3 separate regions of the Homo sapiens genome follow, and all the other regions are linked to region 1. Evidence: fine-mapped expression QTL. A gene starts in region 1. Each other region holds a variant in brackets. All regions are shown on one strand. Distances are from middle to middle.

The links. PIP is the estimated chance that this variant, and not a neighbour inherited with it, causes the effect.
Region 2: its variant is the best candidate, but not a certain one, in a credible set for the expression of GSDMD in whole blood (TOPMed, PIP 0.56).
Region 3: its variant is the best candidate, but not a certain one, in a credible set for the expression of GSDMD in memory regulatory T cells (Schmiedel 2018, PIP 0.90).

The regions. Positions count from the first base shown.
Region 1 is chr8:143,555,554-143,560,755 of GRCh38, forward strand. GSDMD (gasdermin D) reads left to right here and starts at 2,793. Exons shown (of 11, transcript NM_024736.7): 1 at 2,793-2,898; 2 at 3,779-3,999; 3 at 4,224-4,416; 4 at 5,050-5,202. The coding sequence starts at 3,783. It overlaps LOC100310756 (a long non-coding RNA gene), which reads right to left and starts at 2,718. Exons shown (of 1, transcript NR_147504.1): 1 at 1,266-2,718. RefSeq lists an enhancer at 2,608-3,249.
Region 2 is chr8:143,502,747-143,507,960 of GRCh38, forward strand. ZC3H3 (zinc finger CCCH-type containing 3) reads right to left here. Exons shown (of 12, transcript NM_015117.3): 4 at 5,000-5,153. It overlaps SNORD149 (small nucleolar RNA, C/D box 149), which reads right to left and starts at 3,502; the gene lies at 3,439-3,502. The variant C/T (reference allele first, on the strand shown) is at 2,874.
Region 3 is chr8:144,310,594-144,315,795 of GRCh38, forward strand. It overlaps HSF1 (heat shock transcription factor 1), which reads left to right. Exons shown (of 13, transcript NM_005526.4): 5 at 581-656; 6 at 728-789; 7 at 912-1,008; 8 at 1,107-1,243; 9 at 1,370-1,651; 10 at 2,918-3,023; 11 at 3,253-3,318; 12 at 3,392-3,461; 13 at 3,532-4,127. The coding sequence ends at 3,737. It overlaps DGAT1 (diacylglycerol O-acyltransferase 1), which reads right to left. Exons shown (of 17, transcript NM_012079.6): 17 at 3,991-5,202. LOC124902050 reads right to left here and starts at 4,977. Exons shown (of 2, transcript XM_047422537.1): 1 at 4,333-4,977; 2 at 3,991-4,227. The coding sequence starts at 4,977. The coding sequence ends at 4,357. RefSeq lists an enhancer at 2,192-2,723. The variant C/T (reference allele first, on the strand shown) is at 2,218.

The DNA of each region.
Region 1 (5,202 bases):
TGCTGTGTGCCCGGCTCCTTCCATCTTCACCATGGAGGCTGCAGCACAACAGCTCAGCACGTGCTGGCCCTGTTACCCAGCAGGGACGGGCTGCCACACCCCAGGGCGCTGGCTTCCAGGGGCAGCAGTGTGTGGGCTCCTTGCCTGCCGGGGTCACGGAGGAAGGTCAGCTCTGCCCAGCAGTGTGTCCTGAGATGAAACCTTAGACCCACCTGGTCTGCAAAACAGTACCCAAGCCCAGTGTAGTGGCTCAGCCCTGGAATCCCAGCACTTTGGGAGGCTGAGGCGGGAGGATCACTTGAGCTCAGAAGTTCAAGACCAGCCTGGGCAACATAGTGAGACCTTTCTACTGAAAATTAAATAATTTTAAAAACTTACAGCCAGGTGCGGTGACTCACGCCTGTAATCCCAGCACTTTGGAAGGCCAAGGCGGGTGGATAGCAAGGTCAAGAGATCGAGACCAGCCTGGCCAACATGGTAAAACCCTGTCTCTACTAAAAATACAAAATTAGCTGGGCGTGGTGGCGGGCACCTGTAATCCAAGATACTCGGGAGGGTGAGACAGGAGAATTGCTTGAGCCCGGGAGGCAGAGATTGCAATGAGCTGAGGTTGTGCCATTGCACTCCAGTCTGGGCAAAAAAGAGCAACACTCCGTCTCTCACACACAGACACAAAATTAGCCGGGTGTGGTGGTACATGCCTGTAGTCCCAACTACTCGGGAGGCTGAGGCAGGAGAATCGCTTGAACCTGGGAGGCAGAGGTTGCAATGAGCTGAGATCACGCCACTGCACTCCATCCTGGTGACAGAGCAAGACTCAGTCTCAAAACAAAAACGAAAACTTTGCCAGGTGTGGTGCTGAGCACCTGTAGTCCCAGCTACTCAGGAGACTGACAGGAGGGGATCACTTGAGCCCAGGAGGTCGAGGCTGCAGTGAGTGGTGATTGTGCCACTGCACTCCAGCCTGGGCGACAGAGAGATCTTGCCTCACACAAAACAAAACAAACAACAAAAAATACACAAAACAGCCAGGAGACAGCACCAGCAGGGACCCGCAGGGCACCACTGTGTCCCCACTGTGGTCAGGCCTAGGAGTGGGGCCGAAGCCCAAGTAGCCCCATCCACAACCGCGGAGCGGCTGGGAGGGCCGGGTGGGAGGACTACCGTGTGCAGGGGTGGGCCCATGGCCCTGGGCCCACCATGACTTAGGTCAGTAGGGCACTGAGGGAGCCTGTGCCGAGACTAGGTGTTGCTACTGGGCACTAGATTTTTAAAATAACTGCTTTAATGAGACATAATTGTGTAATTCCCATACCATACAATTCATCCATTTAAAGTGTGCAATTCTGTGGGTCTTAGCATATTCAGAGGTATGCAAACATCACCAACGGCCAATATCAAAACACTTCCTCACCCCAGAAAGAAACCCCAAACCAGCAACCGTCGCTCCCAACCCCCGTCCCGGGCACCGGCAGCGCCATCTCCCTTCTTCCCTCTGGACGTGCCCATTCGGGACACATCACGTGAGCAGGATCACGCCGTCCGCTCCGTGTGCCTGGCTTTTCACTTAGCATGATGTCTCCAAGTCTGTGTCGCCCGTCTGTGTCGCCCAGTGCATCAGGGTCTCATTCCTTTTGACCGTGGGCGCCGTTCTACGGCCTGGATTCCAGTGCCTGGACTGGCCATGTTTAGTCTATGCACGCCTCAGTGGATGGACAGGGTTTCCACCTTGCCGCTATGGCGAAGGATGCTGCCGCTATGGCGAAGGATGCTGCCGCTATGGTGAAGGATGCTGCCGCTTTGGCGAAGGATGCTGCCGCTATGGCGAAGGATGATGCCGCTGTGACGACAGCTGCTGCCGCTGTGGCGAAGGATGCTGCCGCTGTGACGACGGATGCTGCCGCTATGATGAAGGATGATGCCGCTGTGACGACGGATGCTGCCACTATGGCGAAGGATGCTGCCGTGAACTTTGGTGCACAGGCATCTGTTTGCGTCTTTGCTTTCAATTCCTGTGGGTGGAGCTAGGAGTGGAATTGCTGGGTCACACGGTAACTCTTGGAGGAGCTGCCAGGCTTATTCCAGAGGGCCGCACGGGTTGACATTCCCACCAGCATTGCACAAATGTTCCAGTGACTCCACGTGCCCCCCGCGCTGGTTATTCACCTTTAGTAATACGACCATCTTTGTCAGTGTGCAGTATCTCTCTGTGGATTCCATTTGCATTTCCTTGATGACTAAGGGTGTTGAGCATCTTTGCATTTGCTTGAGGGCAATTTCTACATTTTGTACATCTTTGGAAGATCTGCCCAGACCCTTCGGCACAGGCCCAAAGTTGTTTGTTTGCTTGTTTGTTTTTGAGACGGAGTCTCACTCTGTCGCCCAGGCTGGAGTACAATGGCATGATCTCGGCTCACTGCAACCTACACCTCCCAGGTTCAAGCGATTCTCTTGCCTCAGCCTCCCAGGTAGCTGGGATCACAGGCATGCGCCACCACGCCGGGCTAATTTTGTATTTTTAGTAGAGACGGGGTTTCACCATGTTGGTCAGTCTGGTCTTGAACTCCCGACCTCAGGTGATCCGCCCGGGCACAGGCTCAGAGTTTTAAGAAAAACCACAAAGTGCTATGAAGTTTGAGGCTACCAGGATGGGGCGCCAAGCCAAGGTTCCTCCGGACGCGCGAGGCTGGTGCTCCAGGCGGGCTGGCGGGAAGAGGGGGCAGGAAGGGGGCCGGGGCGGGCTCTCCGGGACGGTTCCGGGAGGGCGTCCTGGGCGGGCCCTGCGTCAGGTTGCAGTTTCACTTTTAGCTCTGGGCACCTCCAGCTCCTGCTCGCCGGACGGCTCCCAGGGAGAGCAGACGCGCCAGACGCGCCACCCTCGGGGCGCCGACGGTCACGGTGAGCTGCGCCCCGCCCCCTCCCCCGGCCTGGCTGGAGCTCCCGAGTGGGGCCGGCCGCTGGCTCCCGGGTGGGGGATGCTGGCCCTGCTGCCCCAGCGTTCGCCCAGAAGGCCCCGCGCCGCACACGGGGGCGGAAGCTCCAGGCTTCGGGAAAGGCTGCCCCTGGCCAGCCCAGGGGCCCGGCCTTTGGACCTGGGCTTGGGCTTGACTCCCAGGTCCGCCATCCAGGTTCCCGGGCCGGTGCTGTTCCCGCCCCCAGCTGCCTTCTGGGCCCAGCCTCCACTTTCAGCAGACCCAGCACTCAGAGGCTTCCTGGGGCAGCTGCAGCCCCTCCACAGTGGCCCAGGTGCCCCCTATCCCAGCGGAGGCCCGCTATGGCCTCTGACCCCCAAAGCCTCAGCCTTGGACAGGTGGCTCATGGAGCTCCAGGCACAGAGAAGGCCCTGGAGGACGCAGCTGGGGTGGGGCGACACTCTGGCTGGGTTTTGCAGTGGGTCCCTGGTGACACTCTGGCTGGGTTTTGCAGTGGGTCCCTGCACCACGCTCAGGAGGTGACAGCTTGTTTCCTCCCAGCCAGAGGCAGCCATTCTAGTGGACAGAGCCCTCTGTGTTAGAGCAGGTCTGGGCGTCAGGCCTCACTGTCCCTGGCTGGAGGTGCTCATGGTACCGTAGACAACAGGGAGAACACTGTAATTCTGTGTTGGGGAGGGCCGGGGACAGAAGCTTTCTGCTAGTGGGAGCATCCCAGGATGAGCTGGGCAGGGCTGTTCTGGAGGGAAGGAGTCCCCCATCATGGGAGACATCCAAGTACTGACCCTTCTCCCACTCCCTCCCGCCCGCCCCGAGAGCACAATGCCTGACCCATTTCCCCTCCTCAGGAGCATGGGGTCGGCCTTTGAGCGGGTAGTCCGGAGAGTGGTCCAGGAGCTGGACCATGGTGGGGAGTTCATCCCTGTGACCAGCCTGCAGAGCTCCACTGGCTTCCAGCCCTACTGCCTGGTGGTTAGGAAGCCCTCAAGCTCATGGTTCTGGAAACCCCGTTATAAGTGTGTCAACCTGTCTATCAAGGACATCCTGGAGCCGGATGCCGCGGAACCAGGTGCCTGATGTGGTGCTGAGGCAGAGCCCCAGGGAGGCTGGATGGGAGAGGGGAGCGGGCTGGGGCCAACCATCCACTGGGCTCTGCAGCCTCTAGCTCTGGGCCTCTCTTCCAGAGGCCGGGGCCTTTCCAAAGGTCCCTCTGCCCTGGGGCTGGGACAGGGCTGGTGGGGGCGGGGGAGAGGCGGGGCGCTGGGCACAGCCTCAGGTCTGGCCTTGCTTTAGACGTGCAGCGTGGCAGGAGCTTCCACTTCTACGATGCCATGGATGGGCAGATACAGGGCAGCGTGGAGCTGGCAGCCCCAGGACAGGCAAAGATCGCAGGCGGGGCCGCGGTGTCTGACAGCTCCAGCACCTCAATGAATGTGTACTCGCTGAGTGTGGACCCTAACACCTGGCAGACTCTGCTCCATGAGAGGTGGGCCCGAAGAGGGCAGGGCAGGGCAGGGCCCCACCTACCCCAAGCAACCCTGCTTTTATTTATTTATTTATTTAAATTATTTTTTGAGGTGAGGTTTTGCTATCTCGGCCAGGGTGGTCTTGAACTCCTGGCCTCAAGCAGTCCTCCTGCCTCGGCCTCCCAAAGTGCTGGGATTACAGGGGTGAGCCACTGTGCCAGGTCCCAGCCTTGCTCTTGGGAAGGTCACAACCTTGGGGCATCAGGAAAGTCCCAGAGGCAAAAGAGCGCTGTGGCCGGAACCAGCTTGCAGGAAGGAAGCTGCAGGGGTCATCTGGGGCCTCCGCTGCCAGGACTGGATCCTAAGGACCGGACTGAGCCCCAGGCTGCTGTGAGGACAAGGGGTGGTGTGAACACGGGGGCCCAGGTGAGGGGGCCGCACCTCGAGTCTGGACTTGGAGTCCCCGAGTCCACCTTTCCTCATGGGGTCCCGTCCCCGTGGGGAGCACACGGAGAGGCTGCCGGTGCCCCGGCACCCACAGACCTCTGGAGGGCCCCTCTGCACCACCTCCCCCGGTGGCGTGGGGCTGTCAGGGGAGGGAAGACGCCTTCAGGGGCTGCGGCCCAGCGAGCTTTGCTGCTCCTCGGACACAGGCACCTGCGGCAGCCAGAACACAAAGTCCTGCAGCAGCTGCGCAGCCGCGGGGACAACGTGTACGTGGTGACTGAGGTGCTGCAGACACAGAAGGAGGTGGAAGTCACGCGCACCCACAAGCGGGAGGGCTCGGGCCGGTTTTCCCTGCCCGG
Region 2 (5,214 bases), 53 kb before region 1:
CGGCAAATCTACAAATCTCAGAACAACAAAAAAATTAAATCCCCTCAGCAGAGCCTCAGCCTTCAGGGTGACTCCTCCAAAACCCTTCACTGACCTTCTGCCTCGCACCCCTGCATTCCAGGCCCTCTGGGACAGGCTTCACTTCAAGGCAGCAGTCCTGGGGCCCGGGGGAGGGCTGGCCAAGGCCGGCTCTCAGGGACCACTGTGGCATGGCCGAGGTATGCGTAAGGCAGCAGTACAGTAAGCTCCCAGGGTCCCCGAGCCAGAGCAACAGCCCCGTCCTGTGTATTTGGCAGATGCGACGGGCACCACGCTCAGCAGAACAACCCAGTCCCATGCCTCAGCTTCTGGGGAGAGGTGGCACATGGCCAGCACACCGCCAGCATGCCCCCGTCAGCTGTTGCCCCGCCCCAAGCAGCCACATGGCCGGGCATCTGCAGGCCAGGGCAACGCGGCCTCTGATGGGAGCACAGGTGGCACCGTGGATGCCACCCGTTGAGGCAGGAGTCCCGTTCTGCCCTTGGCATACAGGCACTGCTCCTTTTCTCCTCCCACCCTCTGCCCCACCCCAGTCTCCACACATGATGTCTGGCGTGTGCCTCAATGGTGTGCCCATCCTCAGAGACCCTGGCTGGCAGCACACAGAAGCCCCAGAAGCTACTGCCCAGCAGCCTCTGCCTTCCATCTGACAACGACGAGCACTGGCCGGCCACAAACCTGAGGCCACTGGTCAGCACCCAGCCATCTCCCGACCACCTCCCCCAGCACCCAGCCATCCCCCGACCACCTCCTCCAGCACCCAGCCATCTCCCCAACACCTCCCCCAGCACCCAGCCGGCTCCACCACCACCTCCCCCAGCACCCAGCCGGCTCCACCACCACCTCCTCCAGCACCCAACTGTCTCCACCACCACCTCCTCCAGCACCCAACTGTCTCCACCACCACCTCCCCCAGCACCCAGCCGGCTCCACCACCATCCCCTCCAGCACCCAGCCATCCCCCGACCACCTCCTCCAGCACCCAGCCATCTCCCGACCACCTACCTCCTCCAGCACCCAGCTGGCTCCCCACCGCCTCCTCCATGTTCAGGTCCAGAGAAAGCCGCTGACAGGGAGGAGAGGCCCCAGCCCCTATTACAAACCCAGCCATCAACGGGCCCTGACGCTGTCCTCCAGCCTTCCACATGGGCCCAACATGACCACCAGGCCGACAGTAAGTTTCTACTTAAATTAGGAGGGGGAGAGAGAGGGCGCGTGTGCCAAATCACCCCCTGGGACAGGGCAGAGGCCTAGACTCAGGCCGGGCACTCACTTGCCTACCCTCCTTCCCTCGGGCTGCAGGGAAGGGGAGTTTCTAGAGCTTCCCAGAGGAGGGAACAGGCCTAATCACCCTGAGCCCTCCCCAGTGCCCAGGGCAGAGCTAGGGCCAATAGCTCAGGGCCTGGGGCTCTCCAACCGAAAGCTGAGAGGAACTGCAGAGGGGTCCTGGGGGCTCATGGCCAGGAGAGGGGCCCCTTCTCGTGCCTCCTCAGGGCGGTGCAGTCCCCGCCATGAGCATCACAGCCAAGGGGAGGGGACGGGAAAAGAGGGCAGGGGAGGTCCCAGGGACAGGGTCAGAGAGAGGACAAGGTGAGGGCTGTTGTCAGCAGCAGAGCTGTGCAAGCTTCACTGCGGCAGCCTGTGTTACTGTTTCTTGTCCCCACCTTGGGCAGGGCCCAGTCCCATTCCTCTCAGGACGGGTGGTAGAGGTCCTGCCCCCTCCTCCGTCTTTGGGGTTCCAGCTCAGGCCCTGTCCTGAACACCCCACCACAATCAAGCCTAGAGACCCTACCCATTTCGCATGGTACAAGCAGGCAGGGACGGGCTGTCAGGTTCACGCTGCACTGCGCTGCCCCCAACTACACCCTACCCAAGATGCTCAGCCACTCCCAGCACCTGGGACCTTCATGTGCATCCTGGGGCAGGGTCAGCCTGGCCTTCACACACAGACCCCCAGGGCCTTCCCTCAACACTCAGAGCCCCCTGGGCCTCACTGTACTCCCCACTGCCGTCCCTTCGCAGAGCCTCTGCCAGCGGCTCCCTCTCCTCCCAGAGCAGTGCTGTTGGCCTCGTCCATCTCCCAGGAGCTGGCAGCTTCACAGAGAGCAGGCCCGGCTCCATGCTCGGAACTCGCGGGTTTGCTTCAGCAACAGAGCAAGATGCTAAGGCTCTGAGGGCAAGAGGCCTAGATGACTTCCTCTCAGGGTGACCAGATCTCCAATCACAGTGAGGGGTCGGCTGGGGCATCCCACACCGGCGCTGTCCCTCAGCCACTAGTCACCCTGCCTCCCTCCCCTCCCGCGTGTCCACCAGCCCCTGCCAACTCTGACCACCGTGGCTTCCAGGACTGCTGGGGCTTGCCCGCCAGCCCCTCCAGGGATGGGAGAGGGAGCTGGGGCCCAAGGAGAGCTCTGGTCTCAGGCTCCAGCCAGCCAACTGGCAGGACAGCCTGCCTTCTTCCTCTCCATGGCAGCCCTTAGTCCATGGTGGCCTGGGCCTGCCGAGGGAGGGCTGAGGGTCCAGCCACATGCAGGCAGCCCTGGCTCTGATGCAGCACCGGAGATGGCGCATGGGCCAGGCTAGACCAGCCGCTGGCCCAGACGCCCTTTCTGCCTAAACAACCCCGAGCCCAGGCACGCAAACAGGCAACAGCAGGCCAGGCAGCCATGCTGGGACGCAGGTGGCAGGTGACCCTGGGCGAGGCAGGCCCAGCCCACTGGTGGCCATTCTTCCCAGGACTTCCTAAGAGTCGTGCCCCTCAGCTCAGCACCCTCCCCACTCCACTCCCACACCCTATCCACAAGCCCAGGGTTCGTGTCCCGAAGGGTCCCAGA[C/T]GCCTGGCAAGGAGTGGAACAGGACTGGGGTGAGGCGGTCAGGAAAGCAAGGAGGGCCCCTCACACACCCCCTCAGCCACATGTGCATCCTGGGGCGGACTCAGCCTGGCCTTCACACACGGAGAAGACACTGAGGCCTGGAGCCCATGGCCACCAACCACAGCCAGGGCCTCCAGGGGTGGGCTGAATTCAGGCTTCTGGTGCTGGGGCCCTTGATCCATCAAAGGCGATGCCTGCTCCACCTCCTGCCCACCCATGCCTGTGGTGCAGCCCCTACACCAGGGCACTCAGAGAGTCACGGCCGCTCCCTGCAGGGCAGCTGGCCAGGCTTCACTTTGGAAGGACAGGGAACTTGGAGGGAGCCTATCAGCTGACCCGCTGCTCTCAGCCACATGGCGCCGACAGGAGGCCCTGGGCGCTGGGCCGGCTGCCACCTCCTCCTCCTCCCGGCCTCCTCAGCCCCAGGGCATGGGCACTTGTTTCTGTGCAACAACACCATCAGGGCCCTCCTGGGCAGGCCCAGCTACAGGAACCAGACCAGCCGGACCCAAACCAGACGCCTTCTTGGCCTTCAGAATCCAGAAGGAGAGGCCCTGCTGGGTCCGCCCTGAGGAAAATCATCACTTGGCCCCGAGCCGCACCCCTGGGAGAGGTGGACCCTCGACGTCGGGCTGACGACGACCACAGGACGGGAAGCAGGAGCGGAGAATCCATAAATCTGAACCTCATTCCCGATGATCCGGGGCTCTTATTAAGTAAATTAATTTAAGTTAATTTAGCTCGATCATGACTCCCGATCACAGTGATTTAGTGTGGGGGAAATTGCATTAGGAAAGGCCATGCTCACCAGATAGAAGAACGGAAGAAAATTAGATCCACTTAGCAATGTGAATTAATATGGAAATAGCAGGTGTAAATTTAACCTTATCGAGAGAATAAAAATTATCTTCATAAATTTGCAGAAATAGCCCCCGAGATGCTTATAAATCTATTTAAAACAAAAATATTACAAAAAGTGCAGTAAAATTAATTTAAAATATACTCCAGCTATTGCCTCCAGAAAACTCAGCAGCAGGGCCAAGCTGAGTGTGGCCTGGTGATACGGGAGGCAGCAGGACACCACCTGGTGGGCTCGCCAGCTGGCTGACCTGCCACGAGGCTCCAGAGCTGGGTAGGGCTGTCCATACTGGTGGGTGGATCCCCTGGGGTTAGCCTCAGGCCTGGAAACCTCTGGCTAGCAGCAGGGAACCACCAGGCAGCTACGGTCCGGTGGGTGGCCGTGCCCTGGGCCGTGGCTGCTCGCCCTGAGGCCCTGCCCACCATCTCTGGCCCACGCCACTCCCCCAGGAGCAGATTCCCGCGGGGAGGGTCAGAAGACAGAGGGAGGGGTCTGCCACTGCCTGCTTCCCATCTGCCTGCCAGAGCTATTACCCTCTCCCAACCTGGAGATGGGGCACCACCACCACAGCAAAGGAAGGGGCCAACCTCCTAGAGCCAGGCCTCCTGAGGCCCAGAGGCTGAGCAACCTTGACTGAGCAGGTGGCAAAGCCTCCCGGGATAGCGGCCCCAGGAGGGCAAAAGCTGTTCCCTGCCGACAGAGCCGCCCTCCCAGCCTGCATCGAGGTCAGAGTGCGAGTGGGGGCCAGAACACGGACAGGCAGCCAGCAGCAGGGCAAGGAGTAGCTCACATCACCGCCTTGACAATCATACATTGACAGCTTCCAGACAGACCACTGAAGGCCCAGCCTCTCCCACCAGAAGCTTCTCCCCGAGAGATGCTCAGACAGCACATGGCGTGGGCCCTGACCGTCTGGGCAGCAGAAGCTTTCATGGCACAGAGCCCTCACCAGCTAATAGGCTTGCTGAGAACAGCAGAGCATGTGTGTGCATGTGTGTCCGTCCGTCTTCACGTGTATGTGGTAAACACAAGCTGGCCTCCTATTTGGTGCAGAAATTGCTAAAGACACAGAAAAATCAGGCTGGTCCCCAGCCAACGAGCCCAACACCAAGCAGTTCTGGGATGTGCTCAGCTCCCCCTGGCCCTTGGATTCTACCCTGCAGCCCTCAGGGCAGGGCCAGACAGCCCAGTTCCCAGGCCTGCAGGAGCCTGCAGGAAGCCTTCCTACCTGGATAGTGAGAGCCGCCGGGCCCGCCAGGAGGGCAGAGACAGGGGGAAGGGCGGGGCGCTGAGAGGCGAGGCCGGCGTCTTCTTGACAATGCGGTAGCGGGTCTTGATCACCTTGCTGGTGGGTGCAGTCCGCACGGCATGCAGGCTGGACGCTGTAGAGAAAACCCAGGGCACAGACATGGGTCAGGGAAGGCCGGCAAGGGTAGGGTCAGA
Region 3 (5,202 bases), 760 kb after region 1:
CTGGAGTCCGGCCACGTGGACCTGGCCTACCAAGAAGACTCACAGGCTTGACAGGGCCCAGCCTCCCAGAGCAGCAGGAGCGCGGTCATGGCCCTGCTCACCTGGCTGGGGACAGCTCTTCCCCACCCCTGAGCCACCTCCAGGCCTGGCGAGGGCCCTGAGCACCTACAGGACATGGGACAGCCAGTGTCGCAGCCTGAAGAACCGTCCTCCCTTAACCTGGCTGCTCAGGCCTTGGAAGGGCGGCCCAAGGGTCTGCTCCTGGCCTGTGTCCAAGGCAGCCCTCCAGGTGTTTGCCAGGATGGATGCCAGGATCCGGGTGCACCTGGCTCGCATGGATCCATCCCCAACACCCTACGTGACACCAGGTGTCCCCGGCAGGGAGGGGCAGTGGGACCAGCAAGCCCTGGCCCTGGCCCCCAGTCCCTCCACACACAAGTTCTCATCCTGGGGTGGGCCAGGCCAGACATGGTCACACTTACCCCTGCTCCTGCATGGGGGACAGGGAGGGTCTGTGGGGCTCCCTCAGCCCTGGGGCTCATGGGATTGGGCCCCACTGACCCAGCCTGGTCTGTTGCAGTGAGAATGAGGCTCTGTGGCGGGAGGTGGCCAGCCTTCGGCAGAAGCATGCCCAGCAACAGAAAGTCGTCAACAAGGTGGGGGCAGGGCCAGAGGGCCGGCGGGGGCCCCACAAGGGCCGGGGTAACTGTGTCCTCTCTCTCCACAGCTCATTCAGTTCCTGATCTCACTGGTGCAGTCAAACCGGATCCTGGGGGTGAAGAGAAAGATGTGAGGTTTTGGGGATGCCTGCATCCACCACCCGGGGCCCAGGGCTGTCCCCCTTCTCTGTCAGCTGTGCCCCGGGTACCCCGAGGTGGGGGGTGGTGGCTGACCTGCACCCTTCCCCACAGCCCCCTGATGCTGAACGACAGTGGCTCAGCACATTCCATGCCCAAGTATAGCCGGCAGTTCTCCCTGGAGCACGTCCACGGCTCGGGCCCCTACTCGGTGAGTGCCGGAGACAGGGCACCCGCCCAGGCATGCAGGCGGCAGTGGGGTGGGTTGCCCCTGCCGGCACTGCATGGACCTCCTGCCTTTGATTGCAGGCCCCCTCCCCAGCCTACAGCAGCTCCAGCCTCTACGCCCCTGATGCTGTGGCCAGCTCTGGACCCATCATCTCCGACATCACCGAGCTGGCTCCTGCCAGCCCCATGGCCTCCCCCGGCGGGAGCATAGACGAGAGGTGGGGGCCGCATCACCCCAGCCATCCTGTCCCCCAATGAGGCGAGCCCCTGTGGGCCCAGGGCAGAGTTGGGGATGAGGTGGGGCTGGCCGAGACGCCAGCTCACCTGGCCCCCCTCGTGTGCAGGCCCCTATCCAGCAGCCCCCTGGTGCGTGTCAAGGAGGAGCCCCCCAGCCCGCCTCAGAGCCCCCGGGTAGAGGAGGCGAGTCCCGGGCGCCCATCTTCCGTGGACACCCTCTTGTCCCCGACCGCCCTCATTGACTCCATCCTGCGGGAGAGTGAACCTGCCCCCGCCTCCGTCACAGCCCTCACGGACGCCAGGGGCCACACGGACACCGAGGGCCGGCCTCCCTCCCCCCCGCCCACCTCCACCCCTGAAAAGTGCCTCAGCGTAGCCTGCCTGGACAAGTGAGTGCCGCCCACCCCTGGCCCCACCCACAGCGCCTGGACGCACAGCCCTGGGCTTCAGCCCCGACTGTCCCAGTGGACTGAGCAGGGCAGCTGGCGAGGCAGGACCCTACCCCCAACCTCGGAGCTCGGGGCTGGGGAGGGAGACAGGTGCCAGCCAGATCACCCCACAGTCCCAAACGCCACAGAAGCCACGGGCATGTCCGGACAGGCTGCCGGGCCCTGCTCTCAGCCACCCGTCCTGCTGCCGCCACCCTCGCCACAGGCCACGGGCCCTGGCAGGTCGTGCTGCCCAGACACATGGCAGGAGATGGTGAGCAGGGCCGGCCTCCACACCCCCAGCCCCTGCCTGCAATGGGGGCTCTTGTTTTTGTATCTTGCAGTTTGGCTCGCACTCCACAGATGTCTAGGGTCGCCCGCCTCTTCCCCTGCCCCTCTTCCTCTCCGCATGGCCAAGTCCAGCCAGGGTTAGCGCTGACCCCACTGGGGAGGGAGGAGGGCTCTGCCAGCGCTCGGGCCCTCCCACACAGCCGTGGACCAGACCCAGCCTGGCCGGGCATGAGCGT[C/T]GGGCCTGGGCGGCAGCAGCCGAGACCCCTCTGTGGCGGGGGCTCAGTGTCGTCATGGCTCCCCTGGCCACGGGCCTGTGGTCATTGCCTGTGACAGGGATGACAGGGACAGGCCTCCCTGCTCTGGCACGGCCTCTGGTGTTGGCAGGATCCAGACTGCGGTGCTGACTGCACTTCCTGTCAGGCAGGGTCTCCAGGGCACCTCTGGGACCCAGCCTGGCTGTCCGTCCCATAGCCCAGGTGTGCCCTGTGGCCTAGGGCTTTCTTGGTCACAGCCACCAGACCGTGGGTCTCATCCCCACAGCAGCACCAGGGCAGGGACTGAGCCACCCACACACTGAGCAGAGCCCCACCTGTTTTCCCAGTGCAACGGGAAACCTCACCAACCCTGAACACTGAAATCCCTGATCCTTGTGCTGGAGCTGAATACGCCCCTTGTCTCCTGGGTCCACTGCCACCAAGGCCCCCAGGCCCTCATGGCAAAGGGATGCCCAGCATAGGCCCAGCCGCACCCCTGCAGGGCACAGAGCCTCCACTGCCTTCCAGGCCGTCCTCGAATGCGCTGCCCCCTCCAGCCTGTGCAGGCGTACACGGGGGTGCAGCCTGGGGGGTACAGTCAAGGGGAGCCCTTCTCCCACAGGAGGGCATTGGGGTGTGGGGCCTGGGGCACTGGTTCAGGTACCGCCTTATCCCGGGCCAGGAATGAGCTCAGTGACCACTTGGATGCTATGGACTCCAACCTGGATAACCTGCAGACCATGCTGAGCAGCCACGGCTTCAGCGTGGACACCAGTGCCCTGCTGGACGTGAGTGGAGCCCCGCCGCCCCGCCTCCCCGCCCCGCCTCCCCGCCGCGCCGCCCCGCCTCCCCGCCCCGCCTCCCCGCCTCCCCGCGCCGCCGCCCCGCCTCCCCGCCCCGCCTCCCCGCGCCTCCCCGCCTCCCCGCCCCGCCTCCCCGCCTCCCCGCCCCGCCTCCCCGCCCCGCCTCCCCGCCCCGCCCCCGGGTGCTGTTCTGACTTCCCTCCCTCCTCCGCAGCTGTTCAGCCCCTCGGTGACCGTGCCCGACATGAGCCTGCCTGACCTTGACAGCAGCCTGGCCAGTGTGCGTAGGCGGGCGGGGGGTGAGGGGGAACGAGACCAGCGGGAGTGCTCACAATACCGTCTCCACCCCACAGATCCAAGAGCTCCTGTCTCCCCAGGAGCCCCCCAGGCCTCCCGAGGCAGAGAACAGCAGCCCGGATTCAGGTGAGCCAAGTCCCACCGGCCCCACCTCTGCCCCCAACCCCCCACCGCCTTGACACCCCCACCCCCGCAGGGAAGCAGCTGGTGCACTACACAGCGCAGCCGCTGTTCCTGCTGGACCCCGGCTCCGTGGACACCGGGAGCAACGACCTGCCGGTGCTGTTTGAGCTGGGAGAGGGCTCCTACTTCTCCGAAGGGGACGGCTTCGCCGAGGACCCCACCATCTCCCTGCTGACAGGCTCGGAGCCTCCCAAAGCCAAGGACCCCACTGTCTCCTAGAGGCCCCGGAGGAGCTGGGCCAGCCGCCCACCCCCACCCCCAGTGCAGGGCTGGTCTTGGGGAGGCAGGGCAGCCTCGCGGTCTTGGGCACTGGTGGGTCGGCCGCCATAGCCCCAGTAGGACAAACGGGCTCGGGTCTGGGCAGCACCTCTGGTCAGGAGGGTCACCCTGGCCTGCCAGTCTGCCTTCCCCCAACCCCGTGTCCTGTGGTTTGGTTGGGGCTTCACAGCCACACCTGGACTGACCCTGCAGGTTGTTCATAGTCAGAATTGTATTTTGGATTTTTACACAACTGTCCCGTTCCCCGCTCCACAGAGATACACAGATATATACACACAGTGGATGGACGGACAAGACAGGCAGAGATCTATAAACAGACAGGCTCTATGCTATGGCCTCCATGTGTTTCCTCTGTCCCAGGGTGGTGCGGTGGGTGGTGCTGCAATGAGGAGGGGCCCAGGGCACAGAAGGGCCGGGCTGCAGTGGCCTCCTGGGGGAAGACGGATGCTTGCAGCTAGCTCCGTGCCTGCCCGACTCCCCAGGACCAGCATGTGCTTGCAGTTCTTTATTGAGGGACCAGGGGTGGGCGCCTCACCTTGGCCCTGGGGGTCTCTGGTTGTCACAGGACCACCAGGAACCCCCTTCCCAAGGTGTTCGCACTCGGACAGGTGATGCGGGGCGGGCACACTGTCTTTCTGCCAGAGCCAGCACCCTGTGTAGGCACGGGGAACGGGAGCCTGTCCCGTAGCTTTAGGGTTCTCCACTCAGCCTGGTGGAGGAAGGGAAGGGGGCCTGCGCTGGGCAGTGGAGCAGGCTTTGCTGCTTTATCTGGCAGCAACAGTTTGTTCTCGAGCTCCACTGGCCAACTGATAGGGAGAGGCACAGGAGCCCATGTGGGATGGAGGAGTCGGCCCCACACCCATCCCCCCACCAGGAGCTCACCCACTACTGCCATCCTCAGCAGGGCCCAAGGAGATGCCTCCATCTCAGGGCCCACCAGCCCCCACTGGGGTAGAGGGAGGATACCACCAAGGGAGCCCACCCTCCCCTCACACCACCAGTTCAGCAGGTTGCTGATGAGGCCCCTGGTGCAGTCCTGGGACCCTGTGCAGGGCCTCCTCAAACACCTGCCTTGTTGGGCCATAGCTGCAGGTCTGGGGACACCAGGGCCTGGTCCAGTCTTGGGGTCTTTAATCAAGCAGTCACCCCAGCAAGGTAAGGCAGCAGCAGGGCCCTGGGGTTACCCCTGACCTCCCGCTACCATCAAGGGGGGCCCCATCTATCCAGCTTGGTGGATTGCAGGGCCTGGGAACAAGGTGTCCTGAAGGCTGCAGGGCTGCGCTGTCTGCACTGCCCAGCCTGGTGCCAGAAGAGCAGAGGGCAAGGCAGGCCTGGGGATCAGGGGTGCCCCAACCTCGTGGAGGGCAGCTGAGAGCCACCAGCCCACCTGGCTGCCCAGGTTCCA